2 separate regions of the Homo sapiens genome follow, and region 2 is linked to region 1. Evidence: fine-mapped expression QTL. Tissue or cell type: whole blood. Region 1 holds a variant in brackets; the other region holds the start of a gene. All regions are shown on one strand. Distances are from middle to middle.

Region 1 (7,824 bases):
ACCTGACTGGCCACCCCTGGCCCACAGCAGTGTGTGTGCATAAGGCTGTGTGGCCAGGCCCAGGTCCCTTTCCAACCTCTTCCTTACCTTGCACCACCAACAGCTCCTGGCACGTCCCTTAAATCATCGGAAGCTGCCTGATGGAGAAAGAAACACAGTCAGTCCCCACCTACTGCAGCCAGCCCCAGCCATTTACTGGTTGCCAGACCCTGAGCTGGGCATTCTGCCCTCCATCACCGCCCTGAGGAGGCTCCCCATCCCCACGCTGTACCCTGGAGCCCACTCTGGGACCCTGGGGCCCACTCTGGGACCCAAGGGCAGAGACCCACTTGGTTATCCCACCAGCACACAGCAGGGCTGGGATTCCCACTCGCAACCTAGGGCCAGAGCCTCTCGCCACTCTCCAGGGATCCAGCATCTGACTGCTCCTTGTGCCACGCAAGGGTCCAGGTAGACAGTCTACAAATTTGGTCCGACCCTAACTGGCCAGCAGTGGACACAGCCCTGGCAAGTCCCTCCCAATGGTCTCTGTGCACTGGGGAATACCTAGGGCTTGGGAATCTCTTGCTGTGTGACCCTGGAAAGGGTGATGGCAGAATACTGTGGAGTACTGAGGACAGACAAGGACTCTGCAAACTGTCCCAGTGTCACAAGGCCATAACCTTGTGCTGCTGCAGAGATGGGGCTGGAGGGAGGCCCAGGCACCAAGCACATTTGCGAAGCACACAGCAAGCACCCTTGCTTTCCTCCTGTCTTTCCTCAGGACAAAGGAAGGGGCCCCAGAACTCTCAGTAACAACCACAGAGGAGGCGCCAGAGTGAGACTGTTTCCCAGACCACCAGGGTGACATGCGGAAAGGCGCCGAGTGGCTCCAGGGGTGCCAGGAAACAGAGAAGAAACCCAAACAAGCCCCTGCACGAGGGTCTTTTGAAATGCCTTCCCCAGGGAAGCCTGCTCACAGGGTCAAGGGCCACCCTCTCCACCTGCCCCCCTCGTGCCCTGGGCCCAGTGACAGAGAACTGCCTGTTCCCATCAACCAAGGTGGGTGGGGAAGGGAAGGAGGGAGGCTGAAAATAAACCCTTAACCACTGTGTTTGTCAGGAAGACACTCAACCAGAGACAGGTCCAAGAGAAAGACCGTGGCACAAAGCAGAGGACGCCAAACCCTGGAAGCATCTGCCTCAGCTCCAGCTAGGCCACTTCCTACTGCACACAACCCCAAGCAGAAGAGTCCACCCACAGATGTATGGTCCCCAGAAGCGGGAAGAGGGCATTACCTGTCCCGCAGGGATGGACTCCAAGGAATCAGAACATCCCTGGGCAATGGGCTGGTGCTCGGGAGTCAGACTGTCAGTGGACGAGAGGCTGCTGGCCAGGGCCTCCTCCTGAACGAACATGATTCCTGGAGAGACCAGGGCGGGTGGGCAGGCAGGCAGGGTGGGTGGGGCGGGGAGAGCGGCTGTTCAACAAGTGGGGCTGGGCCCCTCAGGCTACTGGCATGGCGGGGGTTAGCCAGATCCCAAAACCCAGCCACATGGATTATAGAAGAAAATGTTAAAACTGAAATCTCAAAATAACTCAAGAAAGAACAAATGACTGCTTATCTAATCTCAGGGCAGGGAGAAGCATTCTGAGAATAAATGCAATGGAAAAAAACTGAGATGTGACTACATAAAAATTAAACTTCCACAGACACATTTTTTAAAAACCAGGATAGATTAAAACCAGATGAAATGAGAAAAGTGTTTGCAATATTTGACAAGGATTTATATCGCTAGTCTGTAAAAAGTTCTTACAGATTACAAAAATGAGGGAAGGTTGGAAACCTCATTAACAGACTGCAAAGGACGTGAACAGACATTCCGCAGAAGAACGGCCAGCGGATAGAACATGAAAAGAATGCTCGCTCTCAGAAGTACACAAAGAAAGGCAAGCTGAAACAAGAGACAAGTGTTGCCTCTCAACTTCTGCCAAAGTCAGACTGACTGTGTGGCCTGGCCCTGACCTCGCTGGGCAGAGGCCGGCACAGGCATGCAAGCTGGCCCACCCATCCAGAGAAGAGTTTGGAGGTACATCCATCAAGAGCCTGAAATGTGTTCACTCCTGGAGCATTTTCCCAGACGGTGACTAGACATGACCCCGTCCCCTGATTTGTCATCTCTGCAGGACTCATAGATACACAGGGCACGGGACAATTCACCAGGGGGCCAGCCCTTGCAGGCCTTGGTATCCAGCAGGGCTGCTGAGTCCAGCCTGAGCCCACATCCACAGTCCCACTTACCACAGGACGTGCCCACTGACCTGCCCTGGGGCCACCTCCCACGGACAGCAGCACTCTGACCCACTGCGTCCCGTAAATGCACAGTGTTCCTAAACCCCGCTGAAGCTGTTTTATGAACGTAGCCTATCTGGACCTGTTACTCCACCTCAGATCACCTCTAGACCACTTGAAGGTAAAGCCTTTGTGAACATGTTCCTGACTGCCGCCAGCAGGGTGAACACTGGGCATCGGCCGCCAGTCTCACTGAGGCCTACAGGAGCCCTAGGCCTACCTCCACAGCCCAGCATCGCCACAGCCCAGTGAAATGACCCCGAGTCCTCTGAGCCCCACAGGTCGAGACCCCCGACCAGCTCAGCTGCTCCCCGGGACAGGACAACTCACACAGCCTGGGTCCTCTGCCCACAAGCGAGGCAGGCAGGTGGGCCCAAGCTCAAACGCCCCCACGAAGCGAAGCAGCAGGGGGTAGGCAGGCAGGAAGGATGGCAAGCACACAGCCATGCATGAAGCACCCTGATGGGCCACGCTGGGCACCTGCCCAGGCCGCTGCTCTCCTGCAATCCACCCTCTGCCTGCTAACGTTCAACTCCTATTCACCTTCGAGATTCACCTCAGACACCACCTCCACTGCAGACCTTCTCTGCTCTAGACAGTCTACAAAAGCCCCACACCATCCTACCCTGTTCTCCTCCAGCACATGGCTCATCCTCCCGCATGGCTCCAAGCTCCCCAGGGGCACAGTCTGGGTCATCTTGAACCCCCTACTAAGGATGTGGGAAAGGGCAGCCCTCATCGACCACCTCTGTGGAGCTCTGGGTAGTGCCAAGCGCCTCCCCAGCATTCGCTCATGCATGCCTCTCGTTATTTACCACATTTCATCAAATCTAAGATGCGGCAGGTGGCGCCATCTTGGTCCTAGCGGAAGGTGTCCACGGGTTTTCCACGACTCCATCTCGAATACCAGCTGGCTGACAGCGACTATGAGACGCCACTGACTGAAAGACGCACCTCAGTTTCAGAGAAGTCACAAGGTGGAAATGCGTGCCTCTTAGAATCAATGAAGTAGGGTGCGTCCACTTCACAGTTGAGAAAACAGCTTCAGAGGGGCTACAAGTTGCTTGAGGTCCCACAGCTAGGAAGCTGGCATGCGAACTCAGCTGACCGAGCCCTGGCTCCTAACCACCTCTCCACACAGCCTCCTCTCAGCCCCTGGGCCTGGCTGGACAATCAACTCTGGCGACCACCCCTATTGGTCACAATCATCCATGGCTCCGACAGCGCCTGCCACGACGGGAGGCTGGGTGTTGTCTGGACAGCGCCCCCTTCAGGCAGGCCCGAGTGCCAGTTCCTTCGCAAGCAGGCTCCCTTCTCGGGAATCAGGCTGGAAGCAACAGGCATGGGTCAGCAAAGCTGCTCCCACGCGCTAAAAAACCCTGTCCATCCAGGCAAGACCCAGGAACACGCGGCTGAAAAAACACACGGGGAGGCCTCCAAATCAGTGAGAAAAAGACCAACACCTTTTGCCACTACCTCCCACAAGCCCTGTTTGGACCAAGGAAATGTGGACAGGGACAGGGACAGTCTATCTGCTCCCGTCCTGGACCGTGGCCTGTACAAACAAGTGGTCAGAAAGGGCACTCAGCGGATAGAGCGGAGACATCAGGAGAGTCCTTAGGGGTCCGATCTTTGCTGTTTCTCACCAAAAGGAAAGAGAGGTGCACACAAAGACATCCACTGCAGTTTTATTTAAGAGGTGCAAATCTGGAGGCCATGTCCAGAAGTCCAGCGATGGCGGGGACAGACTGCAGAGTGCCCCTCTGCAGAGTGTCCCCAGGGCACAAGGGGAGTGAGGAGGGGGCTGAGCTGGTGCAGAGGCTTCTCCGACAATGTGGGGGGCTGCCTGCAGCTGCAGCCTGGGGACATGGTGCATCCCCACCCATCCAGGGCCTGCTCTTCACTGGCTCCTGCTCTACCTGCCCACTCACTCACTCACTGATCAACAGATGCTGGCAGAAATGGCTGTGTCCCTGGCCTTGAGAAGCAGATGCAGCTCCCTGTCCCCAGAGGCCTACAGTCATATGGTACCTCCACAGGCTCGCTTGGCTGCGCTACAGGAGGC[A/G]GCGTCAGGGAAGCTTTCTCACCGTGATATAACCTCCCTGGCTTTTATGTAATAAAATGCAACCAGAAATCCTTAGTCAAGAGTCTGACAGAAGCAAAATGGGCAATCATCCTGGCACCTAACCCCATCGCTCCACGCTCAGGAATTCTCTTCCACATCTCACAGGTGTGACCTCAGTGTGCTGCTCTGCGTTGGGCCTTTTGCCTTAACTTGAATGCTTCTCCCCTCTTCCTGCCCAGTCTTCCTGTCCCTGCTGGGAGGGCTGCTGAGCATTCTGCACCACAGCCGACTCTCCCTCTCATCCTCCGATGTTGCAGTTGCAGCCCGTGTTTTGGCAGTGGTGAGCATTTCACCTCCCCTTCCCGGTATCTTATCCCTCTAAGAGAAAATCCCCACCAGTGGGGTTACCAGGTCAAGGGGTGGGAATGTTTTTCTGGCTCTTAAAACATCGGGTTGAACTGTTTTCCCAAGACCTCACACCAAGTTCTGCGTCTCCAGGAGCCCGGGCAGGCGGCGTCCTTTCCTGCGTGTCCCGAGCCTCGGCTCCACTCGGGACGGCACACCCTCCCCTCTTCCGTGGGGGCCGGGCCAGCAGACACGCTCATGAGACCTGCTTCACTCACTCATCTCCGAGGATGCCTGGGTTCAGAGGTGAAAGCCCTTTGAAAACGCTAAGATAGTGGGCAGACGAATGGGCCTGGTCTTCCATGGGTCCACAGGGACAGAGATGGCCCATCTTGGCCCCACAAACATGGTGTTCTGGGGCTGGGTCACCCCACAGAGATGAGGCAGTGATAAAAGCAAGCTTTTCCCTGCACAGGGATTCGGGCTCCAGACAGTAAAGTCACAAGCCCGGCTTCCTGTAACCAGGAGCCAACCTGCTTGTGCTGCCGGTGAGGGAATGGGTCCCATGAGCCAACAGCCCCGAGCCTGTTCAGAGGGCAGCCTCAGGGCCTGTCAGACACCCTGCGGTCTCCTAGAGGAGCTGGATGTGGGCATCAGAGCAATTGGGAGTCCTCACCAAGCAAGCAACAGCTGGCATCAGGCCAGGCACCCCTGCCATGTGTCCCCCCGCGAGGACCAGCCTGCAGAAGGCACTGCCCTCCCTGTGTCTGACCCTGTTGGAAGCAGGTGCTGGCACCTCTCCCCCAACCCCAGCCCAGCCAGGGGGCCCAGGCAGGGCTGTGTGGCTCCACTAGAAGCAAGATACATACACGATTACCTTGGTTAGAGAGGATGGGCTGGGGCAGGGAGGCAGATGCGGGAGCCACAGTGGGAGGGGAGCTGCTGGGTCTGATGCAGGGGGCAGCTGAGAGCCGGGAGTCTTCACCACCCTGAGGACGAGTGCTTGAGTCAGCCCGGGAGAGAAGAGGAAGCACAGAGCTCCCCAAGGCCAGGGGTGTGAGGAGGGAGCGCAACGGTTCCCACCAACTGGGTGGTAAAGATGGTCTCATCATATCCTTAGAGCAGGAACTACCACTGTCCCCACCCCACAGAGAACAGAGAGGCCGCGACTTGCCCGAGGTCATGCAGCCAGGGAGGGGCGCAGCTGGGACTCGGCAGCCCTGAGCAGTCCCATGGCCCAAGCCCCCCAAACTGGCTCCTATCCCGGCTGGCTCTGCACCACTGCCCTCCCACCTGCCACACAAACCCACCTTCTTCTCTGGGTTGCTCAGTTTGGACTTGACCTCCTTGGCTTTCTGAATTGCTTTCAGCACTTCCACAGTGTCCAGCTCCTTCTCTGTGGTCACTGTGTCATCCAGACAGACCTAGAGCATCCAGAAAGTGGCTATCAGCATGGGGACTGGTGATGGCTATCAGCATGGGGACTGGTGATGGCTATCAGCATGGGGACTGGTGAGCATGGCAGGAGGATGGTAGGGCTCTGCTGAGGAGGAGGCGTGAGCACCTGCTGTGGGCCAGGCCACGTGAGGACACCATAGGCTGAGGGAGGCTCAGCCTGCTCAGAGGCGGCTCTTCACTACTCATGGAAGTGACCTGGGAATGCCTTGGAGGGGTCCAGGGAGGTCTCACATCTGTCTCTGGAGTCCCTCACCAAGAACAGGAGGCAGCAAGCTCTTGGGCAGCTGGGACTAGGGTAAGGGGGCAACTTGAACTAAGCCCCCAGTTAGAGGTGGGAGGCAGACTCTCAAAAGAGCGATGGGAGAGCCTCCTGGGTAGGGGAACCAGCGGCAGGAGAGGGCAGGGCCCCCGCCTGCAAATGTGGGAGGGAGTGGTGGCTGGCAGGCAGTGGGGGGTTGGGTAGGGTGGTTGAATGAGGGAAGGTCCCAAGGGCCTGGACAGGAGCTGACACTCTGTGGCCTGGGAGCTTCCCAAAGTCTGCAGCCCAGGAGGGGAGGAGATGGCATCTCATGGTCTTGTGACTGTGTGGAGGAAGGGGCACTTGCGGCCACAAAGAGGGAGGTGGGACACAAATAGACTTCCAGGTATTTTCTGACCTGGGATTTTGGGAGAACAGAAGGTCCAAGGACCAATCAGAGCATCACGGGGACTGCTCCAGGCCCAGGCGATGGGTGAACCTGGTTAAGGGTGTCTGGTCAGCATCGTGGCAGGTGCACAGACACCGCGAGGGGCAGCAGACACCAGGCTGGGCTACACTGGCAAAGGCAAACCCTTTGGGTTTACAGTCAGGCACTATGGCCACAGGTTGTCCAGGAGATATGAATATTTTAAGGATCTTATTTCTGACCCTTTCCTAGAATAAACAATGTTATCCCAGACAGTAGGGGCAGGAGATGCAAGGGAGCTTTTTCCTGGGGAGATAGTGGACTTCCCAGAACTGAAAAGCCCCTAAGGGACAGGACCTCTTTCTGAAGCAGGCAAGGGTAGAACAATGGACATATATCCCCCTACCGCCCATGCAGACTTGACTGCATCCCGAAGGTCTCCCTGGGCTCTTCTGACTGTGCTGGGGCTCACCTCTGAGGCCCTCTCTCCGAACTGAGCCAGCACCTTGGTCCGGTAGTCGGGGATGATGCTCAGAGGGTTGTTCAGCAGAGACACGTGCTCCAGACACGGGAGGCTGCCTATGCTCCGGACCTCCTCCATCTGCAAGGTATGAGTTCCATCCCCTTTGGTCCCTTCTCTTAACACTTCAGCAACACGCCAACACGTTTCATGGTCTCTTTTAAATGAAAGGAATCTTAACATTCTTCTTTAACATGATACACACCAAGGCACAGAAATCCCAAAACTGTGAGGTCCTTGGGCTCACCTGTTCGATCCTGTTGTCCCGGAGATCCAGGTTGACCAGTGAGTAGAGCTTGTGCAGGCCACTCAGACTCTCTAGGAGGTTGCCTGCCAGGTTTAAGGTCTTGATGTTCCCCAGCTTGGTGTGAAGCCCTTCCAAGGAGGAGAGCTTGTTGTAGGACAGGTCCAGATGCACAAGGTTATACAGGTGCTGCAG
Region 2 (6,610 bases), 52 kb before region 1:
CAAACGATGTCACCGGCAGGGGTGAAGGGCAGGCATGAGAGGGCTGGAAGAAGCACGTGATCTCGCCTGTAAGTGCAGGGAAGGTCACAAGGCTGGACGCCAATGTGCCCGGCCTACAGGAGAGCCAGGCCGCCCTGACTGCCAAGCGAATGGAACTGCACTCGCCCAGCGCTCTGAGTGGAATGCGCGGTCTGCAATCTGAGAATACTCCCCAGAAAAACGGATCCCTACCGCCTCGTGCCTTCCTGAAAGGAAACAGAGACTGCTACCCCCTCACTTACAGAAGGTCTCCTGGCCCACGCGCACTTTAATCATGATCCACTCCATCGTTCCTCCCAGGACAAAAAAGAAGGGCAGGAACCGGTAGATGCCAAATCGCTGCTTCCCGGGCACCCGCTGCAGAATCCGTCTCACCTGGGCCCTGGTGAACATGCTCGACCGAGGTCGTGGAGAGGGATATGACGGAACTAAGCACTGGATCGCCCGGACGCAGCCGAGACCGCCCCGCCCGTTCTCGCCGTGTACCGCGACCTGGGAGACTAGCGAGCGCCGTCCTCCGCCACTGTCTGGTAGGCGCACGAGTGCCGGAACTGGGCGCCGACCTTCTAAAGCGAGGCGGATCCGCCAATCAGACTGCAGCGGGGGCGTGCAGCTCCGCCAATCAGAGCACGGCAGGGCGCGCGTGCTCCCTGAAGCCGAGCAGGGCCTCGAAGGAGCTGGCGCAGGCGCCTCAGCTCTGGAGGTGGGACGGCCCAAAAGGGAAGGACAGCCCACGTGGCGCCGGCCCGGCCCCGCCCCCTGCCTCCCCAGTGCAGGTCTGAGCTCGCAGTTGGCAGCCGCGCCCCCTACTCTGCCACCGCCATTTTTATTCCTAATACCCAGATAGAAGTGATGACCCTCTCTGATGGACTATGTACAGCACCACATTCCAAAATGCAATTATGCAATGCCTTGCGTTTATTTCGGAGACGTGATTGGTGCCTAGACTTCTAAAGTAACAGAATTTGATATGGAGTGTTGAAAGCTGAACTTTATCAATTATCACAGCAAAAATCTAAGTAAGCGCCCCGTGAGAACCCTAAAATTAATAAAAGCTATCTTGTATGGGGCACTTACAGTTCCACAGGCACTTGTAGGCGCTTTATTCACAATAATCGCAGAAGAGCAGTATAAAGAGCATGCACTCTGTTACCAAACCACATCCCTGCTCTACAGGTGCTCCCTTAGCCCATCTGTGCCTCAATTCCCTAAGCCGTAAAACGGAGGCCTTGTTCTGACGCTGTGATAATTTAGTGCGGTAATAGGAATGATGCACTGAACACAACCCTGGAGCATAGTAACTGATTAATATTAGTTAGAATATTCATTATGATGATAATGATTGGCAGAGCCCTCGCTCTTCACATGTATTCCCAAACATGGTTTTTGTTTGTTTCTTGAGACAGGACCTCGCTCTGTCATCCAGGCTGAAGTGCAGTGGCGCAATCTCGGCTCACTGCAACCCCCTCCTCCCCGGCTCAAGCCATCCTCCCACCACTACAGGCGTGCACCACCACGCCCGGCTAATTTTTTAATTTTTTGTAGAGATGGGGGTCCCACTATATTGGCCAGGCTAGTCTCAAACTCCTGGGCTCAAGAGATCCTCCTGCCTTGGCCTCCCAAAGTGCTGTGATTACAGGCGTGAGCCACCGCGCCGAGTCTGAACGTGTATTGTTTATATGTAGTCTCTTAACTGACAGTTTAAGAGACTATGCCAGGTAGAAGCAGGGCTCTGACTTAAGAGACTTCACTTGTAATTGCGTCTTCTCATGCTGCTGTGCTTGCTGAAGATAACTGAAAGGGGCTGTCACCCCATTACCTAGGACTAAAGTAAAAACTGCAGGAACAGCTTTGAGAAAGGAGACAACTATTAGACAATCTAAGGAAGGTAAATGAAAGCTTAGAACCAATGAGACGATTTGGTGATATGGACACAAAATATACAAAAGCAGACTGGAGAGAGCAAGCAGGGCCCCAGAAAGGGTCATAGGGCCCGCAGTGAGCAGCCTGAGCTGCCGCCTGTACAACCGGCTTTGGAGGGCCAGCCCGGAAGCCTCTTTCTCCTCCGGGTAGACTCCGCCCAAGCATGCACACACACAGGCTTGATGCTCGCTCCCGTTTCTACAGGAGGTTTTGACGGCTGGATGCTGCAGGGCATCCCCTCGCCTGGAGGAGGTTCACTTGTGGCCAGGTTCCCAGCACACCCACTTGCTCACTGGGGCCCTGGGGACACCGCCACACTCGAGCCCATCCTACGGCCTCAATCCTTACCAGTCCCCAGGCCATGGACTGCCACACTGTAGGTCTTCAATCAAGGTTCAGTGGAGTTTCGAATGTACACACACCCTGAAAGACAGCGCGGCCACCTCAGAAAACAACGCGCGCCCAGCTGGCTCCCCTCCGACAGGGCCCACGGCTACTGGGTCGGCCTCCTCCGGACCCTGAGCACAGCCTGGTATGCGTGCGGGCTCGGAATACGGATCTGAGCAGAAGAAATGCGAGTGGAGAGCGGTTCTGCGCAGGAAAGAGGAATTTTGTTGGAAAGCCTGTCGACGTTGCTAGAAAAGACCACAGCATCTCACGAGGGGCGTGCGCCGGGAAACCGGGAGTTGACGGGTCAGTGCGGCCAGTTGCCGAGGTCCGAACCAAGCGGGCGCAGTGACCGTGGCCCACAACCCTGCAGCGCACGGCCCAGTCACCTGGTTAGCGGACGTCGGCTGCCCTGCAGGCCCCTCGGCCTCCCCCAGCGTGGGCCTGGCACCGGGAAGCGCGGGAAGGGCTCTTTATTTGTTAGACCAGTGAGTGGACTGGCCCGGGCTCTGGTCAGTGGGCAGTCAGTCCGAGCCCAGAGACCGGGGACCAGGACCCCGGGAAAGGAGAGCACCAGGACTAGGGGGAGGAGCGGAGGATCTGGGGTCAGAAGCATCCAGAGGCGCAGGGTAGGGCGGGCGGACCCGGGAGCGGAGAGGGCGGCAGAGGACCCGGGGGCCCGGGGGGTACCCGTCGCGCTCCGGCTGTCTCCTCTCGGCGCCTCGGCCGTCCGGAGCCTCTCAGGGACGGCCGCTCTTAGGCCCGCTGACTTCCAGGGCTGGGGCCAGGGAAAGGCGCCGCCATCGCCGGCGTGACGGCCGAAGGGGGGCGCAGAGTCCTCCCGGACCGCGCCGGAGACTGGCTGGGGGAGGGGGCTGGGGAGCCCTCCCCGCCCCGCCCCGCCCCGCCGGGTCCGGGGCCTCCCGCCCCCCGGGCCGAGGGGCGCGCCCATTGGCAGGCCGGGCTCCGCGCGCCGCACCCATTGGCCGGCCGCCGTGAGGAGCACGAGGCCACCGTGGCGGGCGCGCAGTCGGAGGGCGGCGGGCGGCGGGCGGCGGGCTGGCCGAGGGCAGCGCGGGCGGCGGGCGGCGCGCGGTGGGCATGGCGGGTGCGGGGCTGCGGGCGGCCGCTCGGCGCTGGCTGCTGTGCGGAGGCCACGGCGGGCCGCGAGCCGCCTCGTCCTCGCCCTCCTGCCCTGGGTGCGGCCCCCCGGGTCCCGGCGCCCACTGCCCCGGCGTCCCGCGCTCCGCGCCCGCCCAGGCACCCACCAGCGGCGCCGACCTCAGCGCGCACCTATGGGCTCGCTACCAGGACATGCGGAGACTGGTGCACGGTGGGTGAGCCGGGGCGGGACGTGCGCCGGGGTGTCTTCCGCGTGGACTGATGGACGGACCGAGCCCCAGGGTGCCGCTCCTCCGGGGAAACACCCAGTGGGGCTCGCCAGGGCCCCGGAGCGCAAGGGCCGGGCGGCTTTTCGCGAGAAGCTCCGGCCGTTCATCCCGGGGGCCTCTGGGGCGCCCCGACGCCCGGGGGCGGGCGGGAGGTTTGTTCCCCGGCTCGGTCTGCAGGAGCTCGGGGCTCCTCGAGCGGCTGCCGGAGTGCTGGGCCCCCGCCGACTTCCTTCGGGGTCCCGCCTGCCGTGAAGCCGCGGTGGAAACGCCCCCAACCCCTTGTTCTCGGCCAACCCTTAGTTGGGGCGGGAGAGTGCTGTGGACAAAGCCAGCGAGCGGCGCCGGGCGGAACGGGCTCCTAGGGACGGCCGGACCAAAGGGGACACCGGTTGGACTTCCCAGACACACCTCGATGTCGCCCTGGAGGTCCGGCCCCCTCTCAGCCCGGGCAGCGAAGGCTGGGAGAAGCCAAGTCACCCCCGCCCCCTGGAGCCCAGACTAGGGCTGCAAAGGGCACTTAACCTCCCTGTCCCTGCTCTCTCCCTCTGAGAAATGGCGTGAGGAGGCTGAGGCCCCTTCTTGGAGGGGGCCGGCTGGGGCGCACTAGTGAGGCCCCAGAGCTGAGAGTGCTGGACATCTGCCTGCTTGTCTCCGTGGGTCTAGTGGGGCCCTGCTTCTGCAGCAGACAGATATGGTTTGGGTCGTGACCCTATCACTGACCAGTTGGGTGGTCCCCCAGCAAGTCTCACCCTCTCTCAAGCATGAAACGCAGTCCTGGGGCCTCTCTGTCCCAGGGTTGGGTGATGACTGGAACCAGGCCAAGCAGGGCAGGAGAGCTTCCGGAGGAACCCCCAGGGGTGACGTGGCTTTTGTTGTCTGATAAAACAAAGTAGCCCTGTCTGGAAGATTCTAACTGGCTAGACAGGGGTTTTCACTCCGGCTTTGTGGGGTGGCGGAGAATCACTTCTTGACCAGTAAAGGCAGGATGGTAAAGGCCCCTGAGGAATGGTCATTTTGAAGCCTTGGGCATCTGTCCACCCTCGAGGTCCCAGGTTGAGTTTGTGTCTGTGGAGGGGCGGCCCAGCGTTATTTAAGAAGTCTTTGCTCTGGGCCCGGAGAAGACCCTCAGAGTATCCTGAGAAGCCTGCCTTGGAGGTTTCAGGGAGGACTACGGGGATCTACTGGACATTGTCCTCCTGGGCCTGCCTGCATCTTTGGAGCCTCACAGCCCTCTAAGCTCCTCTTGTCATACAAGGAGCAAAGTCATTCCCACCAAGATCCCATGGTGAGCACCAGCAGGAGCCAGCTTCACACCTCTGGGCGCCGAGGTCCGCTTTGGGCTAATGCCCACGGGCTGAGAGCAGTGCAACAGGTCCCTCAGTCCCCCAGCCCCCACCCACCTGGCCTCAGTGTGGTGACATTGGGAGGCTAGGCTGAGAGGCAGAGTGATTAATGCAGGTGGGGTGACTTGAATGGTGATCTCAACCCCGGTGCCTGTTACTGGGTGGTTTGGAGCAAGTGACTTCACCTCCCTGAGCCCCAGTTTCTTCCTCCGGACGATGGGGGAATAAGTGGGACTGCCTCACAGGATGGGAGTGAGGATTGAACAAGACAAGCCTCTAAGGCATCCACAAGTGTCACGGCTGCTAGGGAGCAGTTGGCCCTGGGACCTGGCACCATGGGCAGGTGTGGGAGCTAGGGCTGAGGAGAAAGGAGGGCAATTGCTGGACATGCTGAGTGGGACACACCCTCAGCTGCCCCACCCCCACCCCCCACCCACACCACCTATGGAAGGGAACAGGCTTCTGTCGCCCCAGAGCCAAGGTTCTTCTAGTCTAGAAATCAGGCCAGGCCACCAGGCCCTGTGGCTGTTTCCACATCCTGCTTTGTTCCTGGGAGGACTGTCTGCCCCTGGGCCCCTGGGAACATCCTTAGGGGCAGAGGTGAAGGCCTGGACCTAACCAGGACTCTGTGCCAGCAAGGGGCTGCACTGCCGAGCAGACCCTCCCAGGTCTTCTGCACCAAGAGTCACAGTCACAGTTGGTATCCGGGAACTCAGGGCCATGGGAAGGGCAAGGCCCAGGGTCCTAGTGACACACCAGAACCCTGGGCCTTGAGGGGTGGCTCAGAAGCAGCTCCCTAGAGCGTTGCAGTCAACTGTCTCACTTGCATCCAAGTGAAGACTCCTGTCTACACCCACAGATCTTCGGAGCAGCCGCTCTGTGCTGGCCTGGGGAACCAGCCACACCTGATCCCCCACCCACACCCTGAACTTGGCTCCAAAGGAAAGGGGTGGGAATGGAGCCCTGTGTCCCCAGAGTGCCTCTGAGGCAAGTGCTCTGGGCACGGAGCACATCAGCGAGATGTCTGCCTCTTGAGTGCAGCAGCTGCCAGGCACACTGTGGGGCTTCCCTGGCCCTCTGGCCTGGCAGCTCCTGCTTTGTCATCGGCACTGGGGTTGTGGCTGAGACAGGGATCCCCTGGAGTCTTAGAGCTGGGGCCCCTGCAAGGCAGGGGTACTAGATGTACCCTGTACATCTAGTCCTGCCTGCTCCCTTCTCCCTGCAGCCCCTGCTTCTGGAGGGACACTGGGAAATTGGGGACAGGATGCTCATAGGCTCAGGAAACATATCACCCATTTAATCCTGCATATGTGCAGGTGCAGAGTGAGATTGCTGCACAGAGCAGCACCTTCCATATGACAGTCTTAGTAATTCTGTAGGTTGGTACAATTTTTTTTTTCTTTTTAAAAATGTTTTCACAGAGACAGGGTATCGCTATATGGCTTAGACCAGTCTTGAACTACTGGGTTTCAAGCAATCCTCTCGCCTCAGCCTCCTGAGTAGCAGGGACTGTAGGTGTGTGCCACC

The links. PIP is the estimated chance that this variant, and not a neighbour inherited with it, causes the effect.
Region 2: it holds the start of NT5DC2, and the variant in region 1 is fine-mapped to the expression of NT5DC2 in whole blood (INTERVAL, PIP above 0.99).

The regions. Positions count from the first base shown.
Region 1 is chr3:52,478,091-52,485,914 of GRCh38, reverse strand. It overlaps NISCH (nischarin), which reads right to left. Exons shown (of 21, transcript NM_007184.4): 10 at 7,633-7,818; 11 at 7,338-7,466; 12 at 6,053-6,166; 13 at 5,620-5,731; 14 at 1,278-1,402; 15 at 88-137. Among named protein-coding and RNA genes, the nearest start is that of STAB1, 13 kb to the left of the region's middle. The variant A/G (reference allele first, on the strand shown) is at 4,398.
Region 2 is chr3:52,530,578-52,537,187 of GRCh38, reverse strand. It overlaps NT5DC2 (5'-nucleotidase domain containing 2), which reads left to right and starts at 3,331. Exons shown (of 14, transcript NM_001134231.2): 1 at 3,331-3,682. The coding sequence starts at 3,451. UQCC5 (ubiquinol-cytochrome c reductase complex assembly factor 5) reads right to left here and starts at 583. Exons shown (of 2, transcript NM_001124767.2): 1 at 282-583. The coding sequence starts at 432. RefSeq lists enhancers at 1-264, 4,092-4,221 and silencers at 598-897, 2,932-3,431, 3,492-3,841, 3,872-3,961.